3 linked regions of the Homo sapiens genome follow. The protein of the gene in region 1 purifies or fractionates together with the protein of each later gene. This does not show direct contact. Each region holds a gene or a part of one and is shown in the gene's direction. Other genes may lie near its edges.

The links. The genes of interacting proteins can lie anywhere in the genome.
Region 2: the proteins of MYCBPAP (region 1) and CHSY3 purify together in Homo sapiens (co-immunoprecipitation; 2 studies listed by BioGRID and IntAct, with this or other methods). This does not show direct contact.
Region 3: the proteins of MYCBPAP (region 1) and CHSY1 purify together in Homo sapiens (co-immunoprecipitation; 2 studies listed by BioGRID and IntAct, with this or other methods). This does not show direct contact.

What each region holds. Positions count from the first base shown.
Region 1 is NC_000017.11:50,504,391-50,511,553, forward strand, and holds the start of MYCBPAP (MYCBP-associated protein), read left to right. Parts: upstream 1-4,048; 5' UTR 4,049-4,155; coding exon of another isoform or gene 4,156-4,284; coding exon 4,285-4,360; intron 4,361-7,163. UniProt on the Homo sapiens protein: May play a role in spermatogenesis. May be involved in synaptic processes.
Region 2 is NC_000005.10:129,900,077-129,907,634, forward strand, and holds the start of CHSY3 (chondroitin sulfate synthase 3), read left to right. Parts: upstream 1-4,388; 5' UTR 4,389-4,753; coding exon 4,754-5,555; intron 5,556-5,765; exon of another isoform or gene 5,766-5,851; intron 5,852-7,558. UniProt on the Homo sapiens protein: Has both beta-1,3-glucuronic acid and beta-1,4-N-acetylgalactosamine transferase activity. Transfers glucuronic acid (GlcUA) from UDP-GlcUA and N-acetylgalactosamine (GalNAc) from UDP-GalNAc to the non-reducing end of the elongating chondroitin polymer.
Region 3 is NC_000015.10:101,248,879-101,256,994, reverse strand, and holds the start of CHSY1 (chondroitin sulfate synthase 1), read left to right. Parts: upstream 1-4,946; 5' UTR 4,947-5,538; coding exon 5,539-5,858; intron 5,859-8,116. UniProt on the Homo sapiens protein: Has both beta-1,3-glucuronic acid and beta-1,4-N-acetylgalactosamine transferase activity. Transfers glucuronic acid (GlcUA) from UDP-GlcUA and N-acetylgalactosamine (GalNAc) from UDP-GalNAc to the non-reducing end of the elongating chondroitin polymer.

The sequences.
Region 1 (7,163 bases):
AAGTGCAGTGGCGCAATCACAGCTCACTGCAGCCTCGACCTCCCAGGCTCAAGCAATGCATCCACCTCACTCTCTTGAGTAGCTAGGACCACAAGGGCATGGCACCACATCTGGCTAATTTTTAGAAATTTTTTTGTAGAGACGGGGTCTCACTATGTTGCCCGGGCTGGTCTCAAACTCCTGGGCTCAAGTGATCCTCCTGCCTCAGCCTCCCGAAGTGTTGGGATTATAGGCACAAGCCATCATGCCCAGCCCCCTCCAGGCCTTTGTACCTTCTGTGTCCTCACCTGGAGTACCTGCCCCCTGAACTACCCATTGAACTCTTTATTTAGTGGCCCACCTCCTCTAAGAAGTGCTACCTCCTCTAAGAAGGCCCCCCTCATATCCAGTCTGTGGTTCCTAAATTGCAGCTAATGACTACCCCATGAGCTCACACATTAGAGTTGGAAATCTACTTTCAAATGACCCCACTTTGTGTCTAAAGCACTCTGACCTTCTTCTACCCCCACCCCAGTCGCACATCAGTGAGCTTCAGGGAATCTCTGGAATTGAATACAAAGTCATGTGCAAAATCAGATGTGCAAATGTATGGATAAACAAAATACAGTATACCCATAAACGAAATATTATTCAGCCACGAAAAGGAATGGAGTCACTGATACGTGTTAAGTGAAAAAAAAAAAAACAGACAGAAAAGGCCAAATATTGTATGATTCCATTGATATGAAGTATCAAGAATAGGCAAATCAGTAAAGACAGAAAGGAGCTTAGCGATTGTTAGGGGATGGGGGTCGGGGCTGGGGAATGACTGGTAGAGGGTTTCCTTTGGGGATGATGAAAACATTCTGGATGTAGGTAGTGTAGGTAGTGGTGATGGTGGCACTACATTGTGTGTGTACTAAATGTCACTCAGTTGAATATATTAAAATGGTGACTTTTATGTTATGTGTATTTTACAACAGTTTTAAAAAAAGTCAAATGCACGTTTCTCAGGAGAAGATTCCTAGGTTTGATTGGCTTCTCAAAAGGTGAAGCAGCTCTGATCTGGTCTGGACCCCTTCATGTCATGATGCAGATGGTGATACTGGGACACAGACAGGGGGTGAGACCTGTCCAAGGTCACTCAGGGGCTGGTGGCAGAGCCCAGCCAGGTTGCATGCCTGCCTGACCACATACTCCCCTACCTGCTTCTTCCCTTGTCCTTTGGTCACCAAACCCTCCCGTCACAATCCCCAAGCCTCTGTCCTGCTCCCAAACATGCCACCCACAAGCTGTGTAACTTCCCAAAGTTAAAAGGCCTTCTTCCTGAAACTGGGTGCACGGATTAGAGTTTCATGAGCGTTTGTCTTTTGCTCTAGAGTGGACTCTGAGCTCCTAGAGGGCAAGAGGAAATGTTTCTTATTTTCCTCCATATCTTACAGAGCTTCTGGGACAGCCACGGAGGTGAGCCATTCCTGTCTCCCTTCAAGAAAGAACTTGCCATTCACCCTCAAGGAGGGCAGTTAGCTGACAACTTCTAACAAACATTCTTTGCCCAGAGGACATGCTGGGTTGGCCAAGACTTTGTTAGATCTGCAGCACAGTCTGAGGCTCTCCCAGCCCTTTCCTGCTTCCTCTCCCTCACCGGCCTTGCCACTACCCCCTCTCTCCGCAATAAACCTCTTGCGGTCCTATGTTCATCTCAGTGCTTGCTTCCTGGAGGACCCACATGGCACAGCACCTAGCCTGCTGGATCATAAGTGCTCAGTCGCGAAGTAAACGGAACTGGGGATTCTCTAGAGGGTAGAGGGAAGCCAGAGCCTGGGCCTCGGAGAGCAGGAGAGGGGCTGTCCGTGGAGGATGCCTCAGTCATAAGGAGAGCAAGGTCTAGAGCAGTGTGAAGAAGGGGCCATGGCCCTGGAGCAGGACCCAGCAACGGGCAACACACAGGGAACTCAGGGATTCACCAGCACTGCTGGCATCGTCTCTAGCTCCTCCGCTGTCTGGGGCAGCTCTTGCAAACTCAGAAATGTCCCAGGAGACAGGGTTCAAAGAGCCCTGGCCTTGGACTTTAGAAAACCAGGTTCAATTTGTGCTTCCCGCTAGTCAGGTGACATTACACCCTTCTCTCTGGAGCTCAGTTTCTCCGTTTGTAAAATGGGCTTATAATGTGTCCCCTCCCTTCAACCCCAGCATGATTTTGAGAATTGACTGAGAAGATACTACAGTTTATGGAGGGCACCCTGTTTCGTAGTTTAAATGCACACTCAGGCCAGGTGAGGTGGCTCATGCTTGTAATCCCAACACTTTGAGAGGCCAAGGCGGGAGGATCGCTTAAGCCCACGAGTTCAAGACCAGCCTGAACAACATAGCAAGACCCTGTCTCTACAAAAAATTTAATAATTAGCTGGGTGCAGTGGCACATGCCTGTAGTCCCAGCTACTCGGAAGGCTAAGGCAGCAGGATCATTTAAGCTCAGGAGTTTGAAGCTGCAGTGAGCTATGATTGTGCCACTGCACTCCAACCTGGGCAACAGAGTGAGATACTCGCTAAGAAAAAGAAATACATACATATTCATTTAACCCTGGCAGTGGCCTTGTGAGAGCAGCATTATGACCTCCATTTTATGTATGTATATATGTATGTATGGATGTATGAGATGGGGATCTCACTTTGTTGCCCAGGCTGGAGTACAGTGGTGCAATCAGAGCTCACTGCAGCCTGGACCTCCTGGGCTCAAGCAATCTTCCTGCCTTAGCCTCCAGAGTAGCTAAGACTACAGGTGTGGGCCACCAAAGCCAGCTAATTAAAAAAAAATTTTTTTAGGCTAGGCACGGTGGCTCACGCCTGTAATCCTAGCACTTTGGGAGGCCGAGGCGGGCAGATCACGAGGTCAGGAGTTCGAGACCAGCCTGACCAACTGGTGAAACCCCATCTCTACTAAAAATACAAAACTTAGCCAGGCATGGTGGCACTCGTCTGTAATCCCAGCTACTCAGGAGGCTGAGGCAGGAGAATCGCTTGAACCTGGGAGGCAGAGGTTGCAGTGAGCCGAGATGGCACCACTACACTCCAGCTTGGGCACAGAGCAAGACTCCGTCTCAAAAAAAAAAAAAAAAAAATTTTTTTTTTTTTTTAGAATGGAGTCTCCCTACGTTGCTCAGGTCAATTTTGAACTCCTGGCCTCAACCAATCCTCCTGCCTCAGCCTTCTAAAGCACTAGGATTGTAGGCCTGAACCACTGTGCCCAGCAGAGAAAACCGGCTCTCTAGGTCAAGGCATTGGCTCAAGAACACACAGCTAACAAGCCGACATAGCTGGGATTAGAACCCAATTGTCTGGCTCTAGAACCCCTTCACTATTTGAGGTACAATTTACTGCCTGACTACTAGTGCTAAACTTTGGGTTGGGGGCAGGGCCTGAGGCAGCTCCTGCTCTCATACATTCTGAGAGCCAGTTTGACAATAGGCAACTACACAAAAAACCGAAATAATCCCAGAATGCCTCAGGGCTCCAGGGGAAGGCGAAAAAAGCGGGTGCGTTTATAAACTTAAAATAATCAGAGGCAGCATCTCCAAGGACTGTGAGAATGCCCCAAGTCAGGGCAAAAGTTTTGGCTGGTTTGGGAAGTGATGAAAGGCCAAAGTGGCTGCAGCGAGCGTGGACCCGGGAGGTCTCCAGGCGCGTTGGTGCGAGTTGGGGACGGCAGGCAGGGACACCTAAAACCTACGGTACGCCACGAAGGGGTTTCAGCACGTCCTGAAAGGCCCGATCCCCCCCCAGAACCGCTGTGAGGGGGGCAGAGGGAGGTCCCTCGACAGGATGTGGCCTTAGTCGAGGAAGGCGGGAAGCAGGGGCTGGCACCCCCGACGCCCCACCCGCCCCCCGTGGCCTAGCAGCAGGGCGGGGCGAGGCGGGTCATGCACCCCTACCAGCCAGCCACTCCCACCCAGCCCTCGGCTCCCGCAACTCGCGGGGGTCCTCGCCCGGGTCCCCCGCCCCGCCCCGCCCGGCTGGTGACGTCACGGCGCTCGTCGGCGCCGCCTGTGGCGTCACAGGCCGGGCCCGCAGGGCTTTCTAGGGGTCCGTCGCTCTTGAAGCCGCCGGCGGCGGGCGCGTGCGCGGCCCGATGAAGAAGGAGGTTTCCAAGCCGTCTCCGCCCAAGTTGATCGGTGGATGCGCGCCCCCGCGCGGGGCACCGGTTGCTGTGGACGCAGTGGCGGCCGTTGGCTGGCGGGTGCGGCGCAGCCTCGGTGTCTCTGGGCCGGCGGTGCAGGGCAACGTTTCATGGTGCCGGGCGGCACCATGAAGTCTCTAAAGAAGGATTCCCGCCTCAGAATAACTCCGACCAGATTATTAGAGGCCTCAGAGAATGTCAAAGGTTGGCGCTGGCTGCCTTGGGCGCTCGGGAGAACCCGAGAGGGGAAGCGGTCCCCGGAAAGAGTTCAGGACACGGGGCCTGGAGGATGGGGATGGCACCAGGGATGGAGGAAAGATCACGGGGAAGTGGGGTACTGGGCATAGGACCCTTAGGGATGGGGGGCAAGGCAGGAAGAGCCTACAGCGCACTGGGCCTTGGGGATGGGGACATAGGAAGTGGGAGACTGACAGAGGGGCCTCAGGGACCACTGGCTGGGGAGATGGCCTTGCGCTACCTCTAACCACATCTTAGGGTGGCATGCAGGAGGCAGGATCCCCGGACTGGATGAAGTGCAGAAGAGCCAGGAAAGAGTTTAAGGGTAGAAGGGCCAGGAATTGGGGTCCTTGGGAAGAGGAAAGAATGAAGTGTTGAAACCAGCCACCTTGATGGGATTATTTGGTAGAGGAGGGTCGGGGAGCGGGGCAGGCGTCACTTAGGATTCCTGCTGGAAAAACCCAGAAGAAAGGCCTTGCTTGGCTAGTTCTCTTTTTGACTGCCTTTTCCTACCACGTGCACTTTCCAGCTGGATGACACTTATCCAGCTCCTTTAGCCTGGAAAGAATCGCTAGATATGACTGCTTCCTACCCTCTACAGCTTTCTTCTGGTTGCACCTGGGAGAGCCACAGGGCGTCTGATAGCGGACTGACTTCCATGGACATGTTCTCACTTGCAACCCACCCCCTTTTGATCTTTTTTGGCTGTTTCCATTTATTTATTTTTAAATTTAATTTTTAGCTTTTTTTTTCTGTGTGTGTGTGTGTGTGTGTGTGTGTGTGTGTGTGTGTTTGTAAACAGGGCTCTCGCTGTGTTGCCCCAGCTAGTGTCAAATTCTTGGCCTCAAGCGATCCTCCTGCCTCGGCCTCACAGACTGCTAGGATTCCAGGCATGGACCACTGCGCCCAGCCTATTTTTGTTTACTGAGAGCTGATTTTGTGTGGTACTGTGGCTCACCAGAAGGGTATCGGTATTAACTGTGTGACCCTGGTCCTCAAGAAACTCAGTCTAATGAACACCTGGAGGAGTAACCTGACAAAGGTAGAAATACAAATGCTGTGATGTAGGTGCCCATCGGGCTTAAGGGGGCTCAGAGCACCTGAGCCAGACCAGGGATGGTTGTAGGGGTACGTCTTCTGAAGAAGGTGACATCTATGGCAGACAAGAAAAAAAAGGAGAGGTTTGCTTCTCTAGGTCTAGGAAGCAGCATGAGTTTATGGAACTGTAAATGTGGGAACCAGAAGAGGCTGCACAGGTGGGTAGGTCAGGGGCCAGACCATGAAAGGGCTTTATGTACTAGGTCAGAAAGCCTGGATGTGCTCTTGCAGGCCCTGGGGAGACCCAGCCTCAGAGTTGTGAAAGCTCATTGTGAGGAGAGGGGACCCTCAGAAAACTAACAGGAGCTTAGTCGCTTTTCAGTATGGCTTTATGTTTCTTCACGTATAAAAGTCCAACGTTGAGCCGGGCATGGTGGTGCACATCTGCAGTCTCAGCTGCTCAGGAGGCTGTGGCAGGAGGATTGTTCCAGGCCAGGAGTTTATGATCACACCTGTGAATAGCCACTGCATTCCAGACTGGGCAACACAGTGAGACCCCCATTATTAAAAAAATAAAAGTCCAATGCTGTTTTATGACATACTATATATATATATGTATGTATTTTATATATATTATGTATATGTGTATATATGTGTGTGTGTGTGTGTGTGTGTGTGTATATATATATATATATATATATATATATATATATATGTATTTTGAGACAGGGCCTCGCTCTGTCACCCGGGATGGAGTGCCGTGGTACAGTCATAGGTCACTATAGTCTTGAACTTCTGGGCTCAAGTGAACCTCCTGCCTCAGCCTCCCAAGTTGCTAGTATTACAGGTGCACACCACCATGCCTGGCAAATTTTTTTTTTTTTTTTTTTTGTAGAGACAAGTTGCCCAGGCTGGTCTTAAACTCCTGGGCTCAAGCGATCCTCCCACCTTGGCCTCCCAAAGTGCTGGGATTACAGGCATGAGCCACCGTGCCTGGCCCGTGACATACTTTTTAATAGTTGAGAGAGAGGGAATATCTGGTCTCCTTTCACAAGGGCAGTCAAGGGCTTTCCTAGCCACTGCCTCCTGCTCACATAGTTTCTGGGAGATCGTATCAGATTTGAACTGCTGTAAACAAATCAAGGAAAGATTTTTCACTGCATATTTATTTTTAATAAGCAGAAAATTTAGTTTGTTAATTAACCCTTGAGTTAAGAACATGCACCAGAGTGAGGAGGGAAAAAAAATGAAGTGTTTAGCATGCAAGATATCTTTTTAAAAATATCTCAGGGGAGCCTCTAATGTTGTAGAGCAGTACTCTCCCCCAGCCCCCATACAAGGCAGCTAATGACCCAGTGTCATTTTGTAACCTTGTGCGATGTTTCTCCAAAGTCTCTGACTCATAAGCAAAAAGGAAAGCAAAAATAGTGACTTAAACCTGTTTCTCGGGACCTGAGAGCCCTTTTGAGTCCTAGTACCCTCCCTTCCTGCTATGCACCACCTCCCCACCGCTGTCTTGTTGCTAAGAAACCAAGAACCCTCCTAGCAATATTAGATTCCCCTCCCCAACCAATTAAAGCTCTGCCCTAGTAGGGACAGCCCCTCCATGGTTCCCCCAGCCCAACCCTAAGGTCAGAATTTCCCAAAGACTTTAATCAACACTAAAAACGAATAATACTTAGATAAAACAAGAAGCAGAAGAAATAGAGTCCGGGTTTCTTCTCCCTCCATA
Region 2 (7,558 bases), on another chromosome or scaffold:
ATGATACCTTATGTTCCAGTAGCTACAGCTCAGAGAAGGTGGCAAATAATTCATATGTTACTGTAGTCTAATATGGACATATTTGAAATAGTTAAAGGGTTTAGGAAAGACAGAAAATCAGTTTTGTAATTTTCTTTGTAAACTATTATAATTTTAGAAGGATTTTATTATTGCTTTTTTCTCAAAATCCACTATAGAGGTGCTTCACAGAGATTTTATGAGATGGTTCACAAGTATACTTATTGGCACATTCTTGCTTAGATAAGAACAGCAACTATATGAGACATTTTTTCCAGAGTTATTATTATAGAATTACCTATATTTGTGTATTCTTTCCTCTAACACAGTATATAGATTTTTATTATATTTTGGTATGCAATTATGTTTATTTTTCTTCAATGTTAGTTCCATGAAAATTTCCTCCTCAACAACCCTTACATCCAATTGACATTTTTAAAAATTATTCCTATAACTTATTACTTAATGTTTTGAAAATAAAAAAGTGAGTTCTTGATAGAGATTTCCCAGAAAATTACCTCCTCTAAAAGTCATGTATCTTCAGAACTAAAGTGAGATGAGAAAATTACTTCACTGACTTTGGGAAACGCCCACAAATAACACCCACAAATAACAGGAATCTGAATACATATAAAATTAAATTTACATAAAAATCTTTTCCCAAAGCTTCTACTTATTACAAATAAGGAAAGGGGCAGACACTGTGCAGGAAGAAAAAAAAAAGAGGCTTGTTTTTTCCCTTCTATTCTCAAGTGATGAGGTCACTTCAATAAAGATTTAAATGTTTTCTCTAATTCTACCCTTGTCCCACTGCAGTTTATTTTCTCCCCATAGGAGCTAGAATGATCTTTGTAAACAATAAATAAAAACCAGATCACTACTCTACACAACAGCTTCATTGTCACTCGGAATAAAAGCCAAAGTCTTTATGAATGTCTGCAAGGATCTATATATGCACTGTCCAATATGGTAGTCCCTAGCCACTTGTGTCTATTGAACATTGGAAATGTGGCTAGTTTGAATTCAGGTGTGCTGTAAGTGATGAGCACACAATGGTTTTGAAAAATTAGTACTAATAAAAAGGATGTAAAATATCTCCCGATATTTTGGGTATATTAAGTTGAATAAAAAGTATGAAAATCAATTTCACCTGTTTTTAAATGAGGCTTCTAGAAAAAAATTAAATTATATATCTTGCAGTTGTGGCTCACATTATAATTCTATTCAGCACTGACCTAAATTATCAACAAGTCATCCGCTTCCTCCTTTTTCCAATCTACTTTGGCCTCTGCTGCGTCTCAATATGCCATGTCTGTGTCAAAGACTTGTGTTAGCTACTCCTTCTCCTTGAAAAGTATTATTTCAGATATCTTCAGGATTAGTTTCCTCACTTTTTTCTGTTTTCTGCTAAAAGTATCAGAAAGAACTTTCCTGACGTATCAGTTTTAAGTGGCCTCACCCAACACATAATACACTCACTATCCTTCTCTTTTTTTTAAATAAACACTTACACCGACATATTACAGATATTTCTTTATATGTAAAAATACTTCATATACACACATGCATGCGTGTGTGTGTGTGTGTGTGTGTGTGTGTGTGTGTGTAATCTCCTCTTAGAATACAAGTCCCATGAAGTCAGGACTTTGTTTTGTCTACGTTTTTTTTCTCAGTGATAGTGTCTGCCTCACAGTACATACTAAATAAGTATCTGTTAAATAAATGAAAAGATGAAATGTAATAAAAATAAGATGATAGATACCATGAGAGAGACGTTTTAGCATAAGGGAAGGGATTAGAAAATGAGAACATTTCCCAAGTGTTTACAATGAACTAAACATTATGTTAAGCACTTCATATAGTATATTAATAAAGCCTCACAGAAATGAATTTACAGATGAGAAATCAAAAACTTAGAATTTTCACAACTTGCCCAAGGTCACTTGTCTCATATGTAATATCACTTCAATGATTTCATTTTATCTGAATCTTTTCTAGTGCCTTCCCTGACTCCCATACTAAATTAGATGCTCTTATAAATATTCTCAGAGTACTCTGTATTTCTATTCATATCATTTATCACCATTGTAATTCATTTCCTAGTGTGATGTTTAATGTGTCTTCTTCAATGCACTATAAGCTTCATGATGGGAAGCACTGAATAGTTTGTTGACATCTCCATGTCCAGAGCCTTCCACCTTGTCTAATGTTTAATCTCTAATATACACTTGTTGAATAAGTGAATGAAATTAACTTCCTCTCCAAATATTCCAAACAGTTGATGAATTGGGTTATTTATGCCCAATGAGAATTAATGATTTTGTAGATCAACAATATGAATGGCATCCATTACCATAAAGCCCAGTTGAATACTGCAGGGGAGAGGGTACTGGTGTGTAGGTGGACTTATTTGTCCTTTACTGTTGACCATATGCAATAGGAAATCCTCTGTAAATGTGCTGTCCTACATGGTAACCCCTAGCCACATGGGGCTATTTAAATAAAAAGTAATTAAAATTAAATAAAATGAAAATTCATTTCTTCAATCACACTAGTCACCTTTCAATGCTCCATAATTTTATGTGGCTACTGTCTTATCAGCACAAATAAAAAAAAATTTCCATTATAGCGAAAGTTCTATTGAATAGTACTATTCTAGAAATTTTAAAATGCCTTTGACGATTTAAAAATCAGAAGGGGCCTGTTTGACTAGCTTTGTATTCTAACTAAAATTTAACTTTGAGAGAGCCCAGTAATCTGTATTCCCAAGTGTCTCTGGGAAAAACCTAGACATGGAAAAGGAGCTTCATTGTCCAGCAGATGAAACATTTAGTCAGACGTGCTCATGCACAGCCAGGGACCGGTGTGGAAAGAACCATTCCTCCAAAGGCTCCAGGCAGGCCTAGTGTTCCAGGGACGCTGCCAGCACCTCGCTGGATCGAGCCATTATGTCTAATGCCATTCAATACCATCCCTTTGCGTTTGATGTCTAAAACAGAAGACTGAAATTTGAAGAGAAGGAAGTACTTGGGATGCCAAATGCACCCCAGACTATAGCTTTATGCACAACCTTTAGAGAGAAATTTGTTAATGCTCCCTTCTTCAAAAATCATATACCTTCAGGTAATTTCTTCCTAACGTAACTAAGGCACAATGATTTTGGCCAATACAGCTTAACTTTTTTTGAGATTCTGTTGCTGGACAATTTTCCTCCCTCATTGGAGAGGTAAAATTTTCCTGTCTTTGCCTTAGAAAATAAAACGGTTCATAGGCAAGAATAAAAATCATATCCTCCATTTTATTTTTTGATTAAGTTCACTTATTTTGTGGGGGTAAGAATTTCTTTCGTTTGGATCTTCAGGGTATTGGCCCTGTGAATGTGTGCCCATTTCTCCACTATTTGCCAGTCCCACTGAGCCAATCTTCTACCAAGACTGAAAATAGACCATAGTTCTCATTTCTTGAACAGATATCATCAGGAGAGCCGAGGGGGAGACCATTAGGCAGCCCCACATTTTCCAACTCAACAGGTGGAGGACATGGGATTTTTACGTTCTTTGGGGATTGAACCCCCACACACCACCAACTCCCTTAGCCTTTCAGGATAAGTATTTCCAATCCCTCAGAGATTTTCTTAGGAGAGACCCTAACGACAATGGTGCTTCTGTGAAGGACTGAGGAGAGCTGGTGGACGATGCAGGTAGGAGGGAAGTTAGGCTGGGAGGAGAGGTGCTGGGATGGGACGTTTGGTTTCCTGACAAGTGACCGACTAGAGAGAGAAGGCGCGGAGTGGCAGCGGTAAGAACAACGTGGAAAGGACGGAAAACGCGAAGAGTGGCGCCCTGGCGGACCTGGGGCGGGGCAGAGTGGTAAGGGTCACGCCAGGACGTACCCGGCTGTGGGCCGGGGGAGGAGAGCACGGTGGGACAGCAACGAACTTGCTGGGGGCTCCCGGACCCGAGCTCCGCCGATGAGGTCAGCGGAGCCTAGGCGCCGGGAGGAGGCCAGTAGAGCCCCCAGACACGAGTGTCGGGAGGCCAGCGGAGGGGCGGGACGGGACGGGAAATGGGACGAAGAGCAAGAGCTGGGGGAGGAGGGAAGAGGGGGCGTCGGCGCTGCAAGCCGGAGGCGGCCCGACAGGGATCGTTTCCTTCCGGAGAGGAGGCCGGCTCTGGACTGAGGCGCGGACGGGGGGCGTCCAAGGGCGGGTGACGGGGAAATACCGCGGCCCGCGCTTCTCTCCGGCTGGCAGCGGTGCCGCCTGCGGCTCCTCCTCCGGGCCAGCTCGGAGCCCGGCGGCGGGGGGAGCGGGAGGCGGGAGTGAGGGCGGGGGCTCGGGAAGGAGGGAGGAGGGAGGGCCCAGGCGCGCCACTGACAGGGTGGCAGCCTAGGAGCGGACGCGTTGCCGCCGCCGCTGCTCCTCCTCCTCCTCCTGCAGCTCCTCCAGCTGCCGCTGCTGCCGCCGCTGCCGCCACCGCCGCCGCCGGGAGAAGTTTCACTCCCGACCCTTGCTCGGAGCCCCGGCCCAGAGCTGAGCGGGAGCCCGGCAGGCAGCTGCAGCCCGCGGCAGTCGAGGCGTCCGCGGCGCTTCGACCTCCAGCCGGTGTCGGCGCCTAGGCGGCCGGCTGCGGCCGCGGCTGGGGGCGCAAAGGCGGAGGAGGGGCGGGTGTGAGCCGGGGAAACCGCGTGCCGCGCCGCGACAGCCCAGCGAGCGTCCGCGCCCGGGACAGCCGCGATGGCTGTGCGCTCTCGCCGCCCGTGGATGAGCGTGGCATTAGGGCTGGTGCTGGGCTTCACCGCCGCGTCCTGGCTCATCGCCCCCAGGGTGGCGGAGCTGAGCGAGAGGAAGAGACGTGGCTCCAGCCTCTGCTCCTACTACGGTCGCTCTGCTGCTGGCCCCCGCGCCGGCGCTCAGCAGCCGCTCCCCCAGCCCCAGTCCCGACCACGGCAGGAGCAGTCGCCGCCCCCCGCGCGCCAGGATCTCCAGGGGCCACCGCTGCCCGAGGCAGCACCCGGGATCACCAGTTTTCGAAGCAGCCCCTGGCAGCAGCCACCTCCGCTGCAGCAGCGGCGGCGAGGACGCGAGCCTGAGGGCGCGACGGGGCTTCCCGGTGCTCCAGCGGCCGAGGGGGAGCCCGAGGAGGAGGACGGGGGCGCGGCTGGGCAGCGGAGAGACGGCCGGCCGGGGAGTAGCCACAACGGCAGCGGGGACGGGGGCGCTGCCGCCCCGAGCGCCCGACCCCGGGACTTCCTGTACGTGGGGGTGATGACCGCGCAGAAGTACCTGGGCAGCCGCGCGCTGGCCGCGCAGCGGACCTGGGCGCGTTTCATCCCGGGCCGCGTGGAGTTCTTTTCCAGCCAGCAGCCCCCCAACGCCGGCCAGCCCCCGCCACCCCTGCCTGTCATCGCGCTACCGGGTGTGGACGACTCCTATCCTCCCCAGAAAAAGTCCTTCATGATGATCAAGTACATGCACGACCACTACCTGGACAAGTATGAGTGGTTCATGCGCGCCGACGACGATGTCTACATCAAAGGTGACCTCCCTGCGCCGGCTTTCCAGCCTGCCAGTCTCCCCGACTCCTTTCTCTGTAACCGGTCCTAGCCCCTGCCCAGCCCCTCCGCTGCTTCTCTGCCAGCACGTGCTTCGGGCTCCCACAGGCCCTGGCCCGCCCTCCCCACCCCTTGCATCCGCCCACAATTCGTAGCCCGTTCCTCGTCTTCTGCAATCTGGACCCTCCTCACACCTGCCTGGCTTTATTCGCCTTCCTCACTTGCTGTTTTCGGTGCCGCCTCGCGCTTGTCCCTTAGTCTTTACCTCGTCGGAGAGGTTAGAAAAGGAACCTTAGAGCTAAACCAAAGGCCATTCCCACTCTGCCCTCCTCTGAAAGCCCCTGCTGATGGTAGTTTCCCCAATCGGTCCAGAGGGGCGTGGTCTTCAGGAAGGGAAGACGGAGGATGCTAGCTACAACTAGTCTGGAGATCCAGTGTTCTGGCTTTGGATCTTGCTCTTTTGTTTAAACTGGATCTAGCGCACTTTTGGAACTGCTCAGATTGAGGAATCGTCTTCGCTGTCCCGGACCCTTTCCTATGTGTTCCCTTCCCTTTGGCTCAACTCTCCACATACTGGGAGTCCTTGGCCATCCCCACCGTGCCAGCGCGCTGCTCCTTCCAGCCGCTACAGTTCAGCACCAAGCCGTCCCCCATCCCCCCGCCACACCTCAATAAAACCCTGAGAGGATGGGCATGTTGTAAGGAATTGGTGGTGGGGGAAAAGAGGAAAGCACCCGCTAATAAGCCAGACCCCTGGGAACAGCAGACTGTACTAGCACACACTAGTATTGGTTCCTTTCCAGTGCATTTTGTTGGCCGCGGTGATAAGCAGAGGCTGGAAGTCCTTCCCAGAACCACAGGCAGCCACAGCAAGAAAAAACTTTTTTTGTCAGTTTAAAAGAGGCGCGGTCTTTTTCCCGGAATGTGGGCGGCTCTGGACAGAGAATTTCTAAACTCAGCGGATCAAAGTTCTTTAGGTCAGAGAAGTGAATCTTTCCAGTCCAGCCAGTTGCTGAGATGGGGAGCAACGCAAGGGAAGCAGCAGGGTTGTACCGAATGAGGTTTCTCTGTGTTTTCCACATTTCCTTGCTTCCCGGTCAAAGGGGGGCAGCCCTTCCTTATTTTATGCCTTTCTACTCGTAGCCTCATTGCTTCCTCCTGATTCGGATAGTACTTTTCACATAATGCAAGAAAAACGAACAAAAAGCCAAACAATAAACCCAAACTGTTGCATTTTGGCACAAGGAATTAGTGTAATCATAATAACTAGAGATTTCTTGGCTTTGGATTGGAAGGAGGGAAGTCACTCTAGAGCAGGTTGGAATAGAAAATACTGATAATTGGATATAAAAATAAAGAATGGTCTCATTACATTTTTAACAGTGGTATTTAGGATTGACTCAAAGAAGAAAGCTTCCTCTACTTTAAGTTCCTTGCCTTGGATATCTCAAAATTACAAAGGTTTCCTGGCAGAAGTTTGCCACATTTTGCAGGGAATTTATAAAATGCATTAACAGCACCTACTTCTTTCATTTGTTTTAATACTTTGAAAGATTGTCCTTCAGAACATTAAAATGACATATTATTTCAATTTCTATTAAGAATGAAATGTGTTTTGAATTAAGAATCCAATAATAGCTGAAACTCATTGAGATACACGGGGCAAGGCATGGGATCAAGATAATGACTGCAGATGCTGTGCTCATCAAAAATGGTAGTAAAGATGCTGACTGGGAATATGAAGAAGGTGACTCTCTACTTATTCCAATGTATCACTTGGAATACCAAGTGCTTCTCAACTGTTTTAGCTGCAAAATTTTATTTTTAAACGTTTTTTCTGAACTTAACAAACTGCAAGTGAAACCAATTACACTAATTTTTGACAAACTTTTTTCTAAAAAGGTGCCTTCCCAAATTAAATTTCAAGACAGGTTTGATTCAAACATCCTCCAAAACTGTGCGGGTTGTATATGACTGAAGTTTAGTT
Region 3 (8,116 bases), on another chromosome or scaffold:
TGTGGTTTACAGCTGCACAATAGTTCATTCTCTGATGGGTGCGCCTTTGTGTATTTATCCATTCCCCTATACATGAACACTGGGGTCTGATCTTTTACTATCACAAACAGTGTCGCAGAGAATAACCTCGTTCAAGTGTCATTTTGTACTGGTATGGCTGGAGGACAAATCTCAGAAGCAGGACTGTGGGGTCGAAAGCAAATGCACTTGTAATGTGTAATGTTGACAGTGAGCCACGATCACTCCACCGCACTCCAGCCTGGGTGACAAAGTGAGACCCTGTCTTTAAAAAAATGGAAATAAAAATTCACACTTATATTCAAACAAAACCGCCCTCCCAGTGGGTTTGTATGACTTTGCTCTCCCGCAAGCATGTTGGGAAAGCCTCTATTTCCACAGACTCCTCCGAGTGAATATACATACGGTGATTATTTTGAGTTCCTAGAGAGGCCTTAATTGCCAACTTTGGATAACAACATTTATCACCCATGAGGTGTGCATTAAGAGTGTTTATGACCCTAGCATGGGCTTGATAGCATAACTGGGTGTGAGAAGGATCAATGACCTGGGGCCATTTAGCCATGAGTATTATGGTGACAGTGTTTTCTCTTGCATTGTACTTTCAGGTGTTTGTAGATCCCTATTTCTGCTGCCTCAATTTGTAGCTTAAACCGTCTTCTGCAGCGTGAATGTTTTTCCCAGTTTTACGTTTCATTAGGCCTCCAGTGGGAATCGAATCTGAGCTGCACATCTGGCCCCAGCTGCACTGAGCCCTCAGGTGGCCATGCTGCTGCCCAGCTGTCCAGTGCCTGGGTTCCTACAGGGAGTTCCCTCCTGTGGATAGGAGCTTTGTCTTTGTGCAAACTTCCCAGCTGTGGAAACTCTGGCACCGCTTTAAAGATCAATGCATTTCTTGGCAAGGGATGGGAAAGGCAAACTCCTCTCCACAAGGATTAAGTCTTAACACCAGAAGCCAACTGTCCTCAGCCTCTGCAGTGAGGTTGTCTCCTAAAGAACATTCAGGCTGGTTCCCAGTAGTGCCTGTGCTGGCGGCACCCAGCGTTTTCTAGTTAGGAAGATCACATCCCATCTGGCTGGTCCACATGGTTATACTGAACTTAAATCTCTTTTGTGTCTCTATCGTACACATGAAAGCTCACACACACACACACACACACACACACACACACAGTGTGAGAAGCACTCACACTGACTCAGCGTCTGATGGAAACGGTGTACACAGCTGATAAGCACTGAAGGACTTTGCAGAACACCCAGGGCTGGAATAGGCCAGTGTGTGAAACCAGAACGTGAGCCCTGCTCACTTGCCCTTTCCTGCATCTGACTGGAAATGCTACAAACAGAAGGAAATAGTGAGCGAAATTAACAACCTCATGAGGATCTTGCTTGTAAGTTTAATAGCAGCATTCATAATGAAGCAGTGTTTTATTGGGTTAACAGAGGTTAAGTGGCAATATTAGTAAAGTGGTCATTATAGATTTTCTTCTTTGCAGGCAGTGAACAGAACCTTCTGAAAGGATGGATGATTATAACTCCTCAGCATTCACTGTTTCTTAAAACAGGCCTTTCTGAAAGTTTTTTTTCTTTAATAAAAATTACCACTTTTTCCAAGGACCCCTGTTTGAGGCGTGAGTGGAGAGGCTTCATCTTTAAAGAAGCTCTAACAGGGAACTCTGTCGGTCGTTTGAGGCTTGCTGCCAACAAACAATTGAGGTATTTACCAAGGGTTTCCAAGAAATTGCTGCAAATTATATGAAATGTTATACTGGTAACAGACGTTCAATGTATTAGCAACAGAAAAGAAATGTGAAGTGTGTGGGAACAAAGTTGCCATCTGTGAGAAAATGCTCAGTAAGGTAGGTGGCGATGAACTTTAATAATGTGTCATAAAGAGTCACACTCATGAACACAGAAGGGAAGTTAAGTGATCTGGGATTTTTGAACACATTTCTGAATACTGGTCTGGAATCACTATGGAGGACCGTTTAACGTGATCCAGCAGAAAGACTCATTTGGAGACAGAGCCGGACTCCCGGAGCCCCTCCAGGTGGAACTCACTCCACGCAGAGCTCAGACTCGGTCCCACACTCCTGATCCCTGATCCATCACAGCCCACCTCTTGGGCCACTCCTGTGCCATTGGGACTTTCATGGAATAACTACAGTTAAGGGCTTCCTTACAAGTGTTCCTGGTAACAGTTAATACCTCCCCTTCTTTTATGATGAGAAAAATGGTCAATGATTCCCTCAACAGAGAAGGCCAGTAGCACAGTGAAATCAAGAAGCCCGGAACATGAAAAGTCTTTCCTCAGCTCCCTGCAGTGAAATCCCTATAAATGCGAATCACCCTGCCTACTCCTTACCTTTAAAAATTACTTAGGGTGAGGGGGCTTTAGGATGAGGACAGCCTTGGCCTCCAGGGGGCTGTGGGGAAGGACGCATGTGTGTGCATTGGGGGCAGATGTTCCAGACCCTCGTTGTCCTCCCTGGCTCCTTGCTGGTATTGACTAGTGGGGCTGGGCATGGGACAGGCCTTCATACTGGGGGTACCAGTCCTGTCCAGCTGTTTGGGTCTCTGGCTGTCACTGAAGTTCTTGATTCCAGGTATTTGCTACTGGCTGTGAAATCCCCACTTAGGATAGCCTTGTCTCCTGAGCCAGGCCCCTTACTGGGACACTTTTGGATTCTTCCCCAGGAGAACTGCCTCAGCTCAACAATCCAGCTGCTCCTTCCAGATGTGCTAGAGCTTGCCCTCCTGCTCCTAGGCTGCATGCCGGAATTGGTCCCTGCCCCTGGCAGACTTCTACAGGACCTCAGTTTCTCTCTTCTCCTTCCAACCCTCTCTTGGCCTGGCATATCCCTCTTCTCCCAGAGGGAGTTCCCGTATGTCTTACTCTCCTTCTCCAGGGAATTGTAAGCCCTCAGGCTCAGCCTTTACAAAGAAAAGGGTATCCTTTCTACATTACGAAAGACCCCCATTAAGCCTGCAGGTGAGACAGGTGAGACTGTTAACCTAGGAACTGAGGGACAACTAGGAACCAGGATATTGAGGAGGACAAAATATTTGGCATCCTCAGAATATTATTCCCATCAGATATTTATATACTTTTTTTTTTTTTTTCCTTGAGACGGAGTTTCGCTGTTGTCGCCCAGGCTGCAGTGCAATGCAATGGCACGATCTCGGCTCACAGCAACCTCCACCTCCCGGGTTCAAGCGATTCTCCTGCCTCAGCCTCCCGAGTAGCTGGGATTACAGGCATGCACCACCACCCCCGGCTAATTTTGTATTTTTAGTAGAGTCGGGGTTTCTCCATGTTGGTCAGGTTGGTCTCGAACTCCTGACCTCAGGCGATCCGCCCGCCTCAGCCTCCCAGAGTGCTGGGTTTACAGGCGTGAGCCACCGCGCCCGGCCAGCTTTTCACTGGACACTAGTTTCGAAGAAAACTAGGTAAGTCTAAAGCAGGTTAGAAAATACTGAAATCGTTGAATATGCTACAAAATTGAACATCTGAATCTGGCCAGATTCGTACTTCATGTAAATCACTGTGAATGATGGGGCTGCTGAATTTGGGGGATCTGGTGACTCCTCGGCATTTGTGGTTTATGGTCTTAGTGGAAACCTTTTTCGATGGTTTTCGAGCCTGTAATTCATGGTTGTATGTTCTGTATTTTTCCCAAGACCACTGCTGGAATCCTGTATTCACTGCATAATGAGTATTTTATTTTTAGATGTGGATCACCCCTTAGGGAGGGGCTCTGTGGGAAGGTAGGTAATGAACTATTTTTAATATAAATCACAAGTGTCAAAGAAAGTGGTAATATCCAAAGAATAAACAAGAGTGACCACCATTCAGGTGCCGAGAAGGTATCTGAAGCTCCCACAGGCATTTTAAACTGTGTGATAGTATTTCAACCATTTGGTCAACAATGAAGAAAGATCCAAGGATTGCCCCAGGCATGTGTTTATTTGATTCAATGCAGGTAACTTCTCAGGCCCAGGGAAACACTTTGCCCTTCAAAAGTTTCATTAGAAAACCCCAATATACTGGTGACTAAGTAACAAGACTGAAACTCTACACAAACTTTCGTTGTATGGAGACCTCCGCTTTTGCTGCCTTAGCTGAAGTATTGCAGAGGAAATGTATAAAACTTAAAATCCAGAGTAGAGGATCTGGGACCCAAAATCCGTCTTTAGAAATCCACGGCACTTTTACAGACGGACTATATTAAAGTAGGGACAAAGTCCCAGGCTGGGGGTACTAGCCGGCTATCTGCCCACACAGTATGTAAATGAAAGTAGGGTTTACCATCCAGGGCATTAACTTCATTTTCCTTGTCTTCGAGATCCATTAAATGCTAGTACTGTATGAGAAGCGTGGACCTTAAGTATTAAAGATGGCTTTTTCTTCTTCTTCTTCTTATTTAGCGTAGAAACTAGCAACAGGGAACAAGGTAACTGAATTCACGGTCCACTCGCAGGCGCGCACGTCCCCAGGGCTCCGGGACGGCTGTTCCCTGCGTGCGGCCGCGGGACTGCGGACAAAGCTGCAGTGTGGTCGGGAGCGCGGGGCCGGGAGCGCGGGGCCGGCCCGGCGGCAGGAAGGGCGTGGCCGTGGGGTGCAGCGAGGACGGCCCGTGCGGGAGGAACGTGCGCAGCGTGGAGTCTGGGGGCCGAGAAGCCCCCACTGCAAGGCTGGCTCCCGAGATTCGCGCCCGGGCGCCGCGGTGCGGGAAGCGGCCGTCCTCGCGGGGACGCCCTTGCGCCGGGTGCTAGGTGCGGATCACGGGCAGCTCCGGCCCCGCGGGCGCCGGGCGGGGGCCCACGCCCCCTCCGCCCGCCAGCTCCAGTCGCAGACCGCGCGGGCGGGGCGCCCGAGAGGGCTTTTTTTTTTTTTGGTCAAACTTCGGCCACGTGAACCGCCCCTCATTCACTTTTGCGCCAATCGCGCGGCGCGGACGGATCCCGAGAGGGGCCACGGCTCGCCGCCGGCGGGGCCACTTCATAACGCGCCGTGCGTGACGTGAGGGGCTCCTGTTGCAATGGCGAGCTAAGCCGGAGGATGTGCAGCTGCGGCGGCGGCGCCGGCTACGAAGAGGACGGGGACAGGCGCCGTGCGAACCGAGCCCAGCCAGCCGGAGGACGCGGGCAGGGCGGGACGGGAGCCCGGACTCGTCTGCCGCCGCCGTCGTCGCCGTCGTGCCGGCCCCGCGTCCCCGCGCGCGAGCGGGAGGAGCCGCCGCCACCTCGCGCCCGAGCCGCCGCTAGCGCGCGCCGGGCATGGTCCCCTCTTAAAGGCGCAGGCCGCGGCGGCGGGGGCGGGCGTGCGGAACAAAGCGCCGGCGCGGGGCCTGCGGGCGGCTCGGGGGCCGCGATGGGCGCGGCGGGCCCGCGGCGGCGGCGGCGCTGCCCGGGCCGGGCCTCGCGGCGCTAGGGCGGGCTGGCCTCCGCGGGCGGGGGCAGCGGGCTGAGGGCGCGCGGAGCCTGCGGCGGCGGCCCGGCGGGCGGAGCGGCGCGGGCATGGCCGCGCGCGGCCGGCGCGCCTGGCTCAGCGTGCTGCTCGGGCTCGTCCTGGGCTTCGTGCTGGCCTCGCGGCTCGTCCTGCCCCGGGCTTCCGAGCTGAAGCGAGCGGGCCCACGGCGCCGCGCCAGCCCCGAGGGCTGCCGGTCCGGGCAGGCGGCGGCTTCCCAGGCCGGCGGGGCGCGCGGCGATGCGCGCGGGGCGCAGCTCTGGCCGCCCGGCTCGGACCCAGATGGCGGCCCGCGCGACAGGAACTTTCTCTTCGTGGGAGTCATGACCGCCCAGAAATACCTGCAGACTCGGGCCGTGGCCGCCTACAGGTGAGCCCCTGCTCCCCGGGCACCGCCTCCTGCGTCCGGCATCCCGGCGGCCGGCATCCCGGGTGCTCTCCTGGCTCTCGCCTCCGCCCGCTTCCTAGGCCCTTCTTGGGCTTCCGGCGGGATCGGGTTGCCTCTCGGGAGACGCCGGGCCGAGGGAGAAAAGATCAGAGGCGGGATGGTGAGCGCGGCGCTCAGGAACATGGCCTTTGGGGTCAGATGGACTAGTGTGGCCTCGCTGGGTGTACCTCTCACCCTGATGAAGGCACTTTAGCCTTTGCAAATCGAAGCTTCTCGTTAGAAGGGCCCGACAGATCGGGTCTCCCTCATAATGTTGGAAAACTCATAGCACAGTACCTGATAGTGGAGGCAGTTGGGGCTGATACTGGATTCCCTAAAATGTGCACCTTTGTCCTTGCAAAGCTGGAGCCCGTGTACGTTAATCTAGTTCTAGAACCTTTCCACATCATACTCTCACATTTCGCAGTTGGAGGCACTCCTATAAATGAAAGAGAATGCCCGCAGCATATTGGACCACACCAGTCTGTTGAGTACAGAGAGAGAGAACCTTGGGGAAAAGCAGTTCTTGGCCCTTGGTAGATTCAGTGGAAAACTGCATTCTGGTGTTAATTAGTTCAGCTTGGTGGTGTATGCATGTTATCCAGTAACTGGGCTCTAGTTGGCCAAATGAGTCATAAAAGCAGCTGGAATTGTGTTCAGGTTTAACAAAGGGATTAGCCAATGTAGTCTCTAGAAGGGAGATGATTTTGGAATGGCTGGCATGGTTAGAATCAGATTTGTATTGGAGTGAATTTGAAGTTGGAGAGGGTTGTAGACTCGATAAAGGGATTTGATGGAAACCCTATATGTGTGAAGTATAGAGACACTTACTGTATGGATAAAGTTTGGGTCTTATCCAGCCACAGAGCAAACCAATGTGGGGAATGGTTTTAGAGCATCAGTTGTCTGGTAATGAAATTTCAGAGCAGCCAGTGCTGAGCCAGGCTAAGCTGGTTGCTGTTTGTTCTTATAACCAATACCTTTACACTTCAGTTTTTAAATGCAGTCTTGGTCAGATTTTTCAGGCACTAGATGTTGTGAGGGGAAAAGCATATATGGTCTCCCTTGCCTTTAAGGGAGAAAGTAAAGGACTGAGAAAGAAGGTGAAAGTGGTCTTCAGTGACTGCCCCTTGAATGGCTTGATCCCCATTCCTGCACATTTCCATTAGGGTCCTGCTTAAGTCCAGAACCCACATTCCGCCAGGAAGGGTCCTGAGTGGCTTGAAAAGCTTAGAATGCAGGTATTGTAAATACAGACTAATGCAGGCGGGGCGCCGTGGCTCACGCCTGTAATTCTAGCACTTTGGGAGGCCGAGGCGGGCGGATCGCCTGAGGTCAGGAGTTCGACACCAGCCTGACCAATATGGTGAAACCCCGTCTCTACTCAAGAGTACAAAAATTAGCCGGGTGTGGTGGCGTGCACCTGTAGTCCCAGCCACTCAGGAGGCTGAGGCAGGAGAATCGCTTGAACCCAGGAGGCGGAGGTTGCAATGAGCCAAGATCATGCCACTGCACTCCAGCCTGGGCTACAGAGTGAGACTCCATCTCAAAAAAAAAAAAAAAAAAAAATTCTATCTATCGATCGATAGATAGAGATACATAGACTAGTGCAGTGATTTGGGAACCAGCCTATCAGGATCTCTCCCAGATCTACCTTGCATTACCTGAGGTTTTATGGGATTTTTTTTTTTTTTTTGACCAGAGAAACAGCCGTATCGGAAATCGAGGATGAGCCATATAGATTATTTACAGCATGGTTTTGAAAGTAAATCCGCATGACTCTAGTGTGGTGATAGACCATGTGAAATCACAGTTTTGGGGACAGTTAACAAACCAGTTAGTACAAACAGTAAATTAGGTAACTCCCTTATCTCCCCCATGCCCCCTGAACCAAATACATTTTCATGGTTACGGTATCAATATATTCAAATCAGTGGGGGGCCTAATGCACCAGCAATACTCAGAAAATGTAATGCAGGCCGGGCGCGGTGGCTCACGCCTGTCATCCCAGCACTTTGGGAGGCCGAGGCGGGCGGATCATGAGGTCAGGAGATCAAGACCATCCTGGCTAACACGGTGAAACCCCATCTCTACTGAAAATGCAAAAAAAAAAAAAAAAAAAAAAATTAGCCAGGCTTGGTGGCAGGTGCCTGTAGTCCCAGCTACTCGGGAGGCTGAGGCAGGAGAATGGCGTAAACCCA